2 separate regions of the Homo sapiens genome follow, and region 1 is linked to region 2. The links come from fine-mapping of genetic effects on plasma protein levels. Region 2 holds a variant in brackets. A gene starts in the other region. All regions are shown on their forward strands.

The links. A credible set is the group of variants that fine-mapping cannot tell apart. PIP is the chance, under the fine-mapping model, that this variant and not a neighbour inherited with it causes the effect. Protein levels are from antibody-based Olink assays in UK Biobank. Linkage for the fine-mapping came from a reference panel and not from the study's own genotypes, which makes the PIPs less certain.
Region 1: it holds the start of CETN2, and the variant in region 2 is the best candidate, but not a certain one, in a credible set for the plasma level of the CETN2 protein (UK Biobank, PIP 0.75).

What each region holds. Positions count from the first base shown.
Region 1 is chrX:152,829,481-152,831,980 of GRCh38, forward strand. CETN2 (centrin 2) reads right to left here and starts at 1,277. Exons shown (of 5, transcript NM_004344.3): 1 at 1,228-1,277; 2 at 122-280. The coding sequence starts at 1,230. It overlaps NSDHL (NAD(P) dependent 3-beta-hydroxysteroid dehydrogenase NSDHL), which reads left to right and starts at 1,583. Exons shown (of 8, transcript NM_015922.3): 1 at 1,583-1,637. RefSeq lists a silencer at 1,177-1,516.
Region 2 is chr22:31,301,875-31,304,893 of GRCh38, forward strand. LOC105372997 (a long non-coding RNA gene) reads right to left here and starts at 912. Exons shown (of 4, transcript XR_001755493.3): 1 at 1-912. The variant C/T (reference allele first, on the strand shown) is at 1,248.

The DNA of each region.
Region 1 (2,500 bases), not on the chromosome of region 2:
AACCTCCCCTGTTACTTACTGCAGGGAGAAGAGGGCAAAAGGGGTAGAGAGGTGATAGGGAGATGACAAGGAAGAGGCAGAGGAAAGGAAGGGCAGTACGGCAGGAATGCACAGAGCTTGCCTTCAGTTCTTTAACATCTATGGTGCCAGTTCCATCCGCATCGAAAAGATCAAAAGCTTCCCGGATCTCCTGCTTTTGCTCTTCAGTAAGCTCAGGCTTAGGGCTCATTCTTTTTCGCTGAGAACTTGATGCCATGTTTGCCTTCTTAAAGTTGGAGGCCTTTATATGTTATGCAATACACAAGCACAATAATATATCATACAGTCCATATTTACATAACATAGTTACAGACACCCATATGTATTTTTAAAGTCATTTATATAACCAATTCCAAAGCTTTGCTTAAAAAGAAAGATAACAGGGTTTACTGGCAAGAACAATGAATCTTTCCATGAACTTCTACCCCTCCCTTTTCTTTACTGTTGTTTCTAGAAGCAGGGAGATCACTTGTTCAGTAAGGACACCTCTTACTGAAAATCATCCCAAAAGAGAGCCAGTCAAGAAGATGACTGTGAATAACTAGAGATAATCAGCTCTTCCCGAACGTGGGGATCCTGGTTCTGAAAACAGTCTTACGATGCCCACTCCCAGTACTCCCCTTCCCAGTAAGTACTCCGACTTCCCAATTACTTCTAGATTTGGCCAAATATTAGTAAGTTGTTAAGATGTATATTGTGTCAGTACCGAGTAATAAAACTCAATCCATCTGGCACCTTCGTGCCTTCTCCAAGAAGCTAAAGCATCCCCTGAATGCCCCTGTATTTAAATTGTAAAAAACATTGTAACAGAACACGATACACCTTTTCCCAGCTGTGTGTGGAAATTTTGGCAGAATGAGGAGGCCAGGGGGCCAAGGTCTGAGAGAGTCAGGGGCCTGTGAGGGATTCGAGTCTTTTTTGCCCAGGGAGGTTCACCGAGGGGATCAGGGAATGCAAGGGGAGCCCGAGGGGCGGGTGTGGGCCTGTTGTGGGTGAAGAGGAGGCAGCAGCGAAGCGCAGGCCCAGTAGGTTGGTTAGCGTCTGTACCCTACTCTCCCGGGAAAGAGCTCAAAGGAAAGACTGGTGCGCTAAAGCCGAGAAAGGCGCAGGAGAGGCGGCGTGGCCGAGCTGGGGCCTGGGAAGGGCTCAGCCGCTGGGCGTGGGGCGCGACAGAGCGGCAGCACTCACCATAGCCAAAGGAGTCCGCTGCCGGTTGTTAGGCAACCGACGTGTACACTGACTCGGCGCCGTTCCCACCGCCCCGCGCGCGCAGCCCCGCTCCCCATTGGCCGTCCGCTCGTCGCCGCCTCTCCCTATTGGTGCAGGGCCGAAGAGGGTGGGACTAACCTGGCAAAGCCCCGGCCCAGCGCGGGGAGGGGCACGCTGGCGACAGAGCCCCGTCTTTATTGGGCAAGATCACGCCGTGAGCGCCAATTGGCTGAGTCGTCGCCGAGCTGGGCCAATCCTCTTGGTGGAGGAAGCTCGGCTGATTCTCGGCTCACGCGGGAGGGGAGTAAAGGGTGGCGGTCCGGGCCTGGAGTTCAGTGGGTGCAGCCTGCTTGCGAGCTGAGGCCAGACAGGGGGGCGCCTACGGACGGGTAAGAGTCGTGGCCTTGCCATTGGAGGTCACCCTGTGTCAGCGACTGGGCAGTGCGGGAGGGTGGGGAGCTACGGGGTCGCCCGGGTCGGGTGCTTTCTGGGTTGACCTAAGGCTGAGTTTAGGGACCGAGTGCATCAGAGCAGCCAGAAACGATTACCTTGCGTGTTGGAGCAGGGACTGTACTCACGGGGCAACTGAGACCCGGAGAGGGGAAGGGGTGTGCTGAGTGTTGTCGCAGAGGTCGGACGGCTGGGACCTAGGAACTGAATCCAGCCGAGGCTCGCTCTTTGAGGGTGGCCCTTCGAGAGCACCCCTAGACTGACCCAGATGTATAGGCCCCAGACCAGGTTCCAAGAGAGGATCACTTTAGATCTTACCTGGCTAAAAGCAGCCCAGGACGGTGAACTGGGGCCTTTGGGAACGGACTTTGAAAGGAGTGAGGGGGATGTGAGCGAGCATGAGGGGCGGGGAGAGGTCATCAAAATATACTCTTTTTGACACCCACACAATGCAGATAAGGAGGAGCATTCCAGGCCGAGACGCCCTCATCAGCAGAGTCACAGGAGTTTTGGAAGTGAGAGGTATGCTTGGAGAATTAAAAGGGAGCGTGTGCAAGGGCTGTGGACTGACATAGACCTGCAGAAGTGGAGCTGGAGGTCCAGTTTGCCCTCTTTAGCTATCCCCGTGGCTTTTAGCCTTCACCTGTTTTTCCTCCAGGCATAGGGGCAGTAATCTAGGGAGACAGAGGGCAGAGAGTAAGTTTCTCAGACAGAGAAAGGCCCGAGGCTTATTAGAACCTTTTAAATGGAGCTGCTGCCCTTTGCCCTCTTCTCTCTTCAGCAGTGAACAGATTCCTGACTT
Region 2 (3,019 bases):
AGAAAGGAAAAAGAATCTCAGACAAGATCATAGAGTGATTGTGGCTGGAAGGAAGTCCAAGGACAACAGAAATCAACATTTTATTACAATGAGGCCCAATTATATGATCTGATTGCTGCCCTTCTCACCCTCTGTGAAGCCCAGTTAACAGAAATGAGCAGTGCTGTGGGAGGTGTCATAAGTGGACTCAAATTGGCCCCAGAATGGCAAACTCTGAGTTCAATAATAGATTAAGTACCAGCTTCAAACACTCAGTGTGTTCTCTGAGTTCCCAAAGATATTTCTACCTGGAGCTTTCTTCTACACTTACCTTAATGGCTCAGTTGGAAGTCAGCCATCACTGCTAAGTGTTCTTAGTTCTATGCAGCATTGGCAGGAGCTTCCCTATTATCCTGATGTTAGTAATAGAAAGTCTGCCCAGTTGTAGCCAGGCTGTTCCCCCTAAAGCAATAGTGGAGCATTTCCACTTTCTAGGATCTTGTCCTTTCCAACACTGAGTGGACTAACCTCTTGTCACTTTCACCAGTCATTAGATTTATGAGAAAATCTCCCCATTCCTAGAGTGGATCTGCTATCAGGCAGCAATCTGCTTTTTGCTCTGAATTTCTGATCTCTTGGATACAGTAGGAGAATCTGCTCCGATGAACATTAAATTAATATATGTAAAGCATTTAGAAGAATGCCTCACACATATTAAGAGTTTCTGCTATTATCATTAATACTATCGTTGTTATTGCCACCATCTAGGATCAGAAGCTAGAGCTTAGCTGAACATCTAATTCTTGCTCTTGTTATTCTGAGTGGTTTAGCAAATCCAATTTATCTGGAAATGGGGCTGAATATGTTTGGTTTCCGCTCAATTTTGTGGCCATTGCCACTTCAAAGAGTTTTCAAAAGGTCAAAATGTTATCATTTTAGTGTTTTTACTTCTTAGGGCTTCAACATCCCCTCTCTGGATTCTTAAGAGACTCTGATCCTGAATCAGTGAAATGGATAATCGAGCAATCTCTGCATGAAAGATGTACATTTTATCCAGTCATCCAGTGTTTAACAAACACCAGCTCAATGTGGGACAGTAATAAATGTCATCGCTAACATTTATTGAGCACCTAGTATGTGCCAGATACTGTTCTAAGTGCTTTATATATACTATCTCATTTATTCTTCATAAAAACCCTATATATAGGCACTGTTATTATCTTCCTTTTACAAATGAAGAAACAATCATAAAGAGGTTAAGTAATTTG[C/T]GTAAAGCCACAAAGATAAGTGAAAGAGCTGGGATATGTACCCAGGCAGTCATATCTCATAGCTTTTGCTAGTTACCACCTCACTGTACTGACAGGGAGAACCCTGGATTTAAGAGGCAGAAGTTCGGCTGGGCGCGGTCGCTCACGCCTGTAATCCCAGCACTTTGGGAGGCCGAGGTGGGCAGATCACGAGGTCAGGAGATTGAGACCATCCTGGCTAACACGGTGAAACCCCGTCTCTACTAAAAGTAGAAAAAATTAGCCGGGCGTGGTGGCAGGCGCCTGTAGTCCCAGCTACTTGGGAGGCTGAGGCAGGAGAATGGCGTGAACCTGGGAGGCAGAGCTTGCAGTGAGCTGAGATCACACCACTGCACTCCAGCCTGTCTCAAAAAAAAAAAAAAAAAAAAAAGAGGCAGAAGTCCAATCTGGTCTCAACTCCTCCATTCCATCATTTAACAAGTTGAATGACCTTAGGTATACCTTTCTTGAAACTCAAGTTTCTTTATCTGTAAAATGGATAGGGTAATACGTACTTCACAGGATGGTTGTGAAGACTGTTATGTGCCCTGGACTTCTTAGGCATTCAGTAAATGTTAGCTTCTCTCACTACCCGATTCTAAGCACTACACTGGTGCTCAAGATTGACTAAGAAAGTTGTACCTCCGGCCGGGCGCAGTGGCTCATGGCCGTAATCCCAACACTTTGGGAGGCTGAGACGGGCGGATCACGAGGACAAGAGATCGAGACCATCCCGGTCAACATGGTGAAATCCCGTCTCTACTAAAAATACAAAAATTAGCTGGGCATGGTGATGTGCGCCTGAAATCCCAGCTACTGGGGAGGCTGAGGTAGGAGAATCACTTGAACCCGGGAGGCAGAGGTTGCAGTGAGCCGAGATCGTGCCATTGCACTCCAGCCTGGCGACAGAGCAAGACTCTGTCTCAAAAAAAAAAAAAAACAGAAAAAGTTCTACCTCCTTGTGGTCCCAGTCTGGGATGAAGAGGGAAGAAGAGGACAAATATGGGACCAGGTCATTATGGTATAGTATAAGAAATACCACTTTAGAGGAATATACAGAGAGAAGAATACAGAAAGTTACATTTTCTGAGATGGGGCAAGGAGGAGTTGAAGTTTCAGGGTACCAGTGACATTTGTGTTGGGCATTGAAAAACAGGCTTGGATGGGATGGACAGAAGGCACAAAAGTTTCTGAGCAGAAGAAACAGCATGTGTGCAGGCGCTAAAGTATGGCAGAGCTCAGAGTATGTGTTCTAGTAATGGCTAGAGGTTTGGTATGCAGTTGGGTATTGGAGGTGAGATGGTAACTGAGTAGTAACAAATGAGTTTGCAAAGAGAGGCATTCAAGGCTTCAGATGTCAGTTATGTCCCAGCACCACGAAGACAGTAAAACATAGACATCTTTTAAAAGAAAATTTACCGAAAGTAAATAAATTTAGCAACAAAAACTTTATAAATGCTCTTTTCTATTGAGATACAATTCACATATCATGAAATTCATCATTTTACAGCATACAGTTCAGTAGTTGTTAGTACCTGTGCGTCACTTAACAACAAGGATAGGTTCTGAGAAATGCGTCATGCAAACATCATAGAGTATAATTACACAAACCTAGACGGGACAGCCTACTACATATCTAGGCTATATGGTGTAACCTACTGATCTCAGGCTACAAACCTGTACAGCATCTAACTGTACTAAATACTATAGGCAACTTTAACACAATGATAAGTATTAGTGTATCTAAACATAGA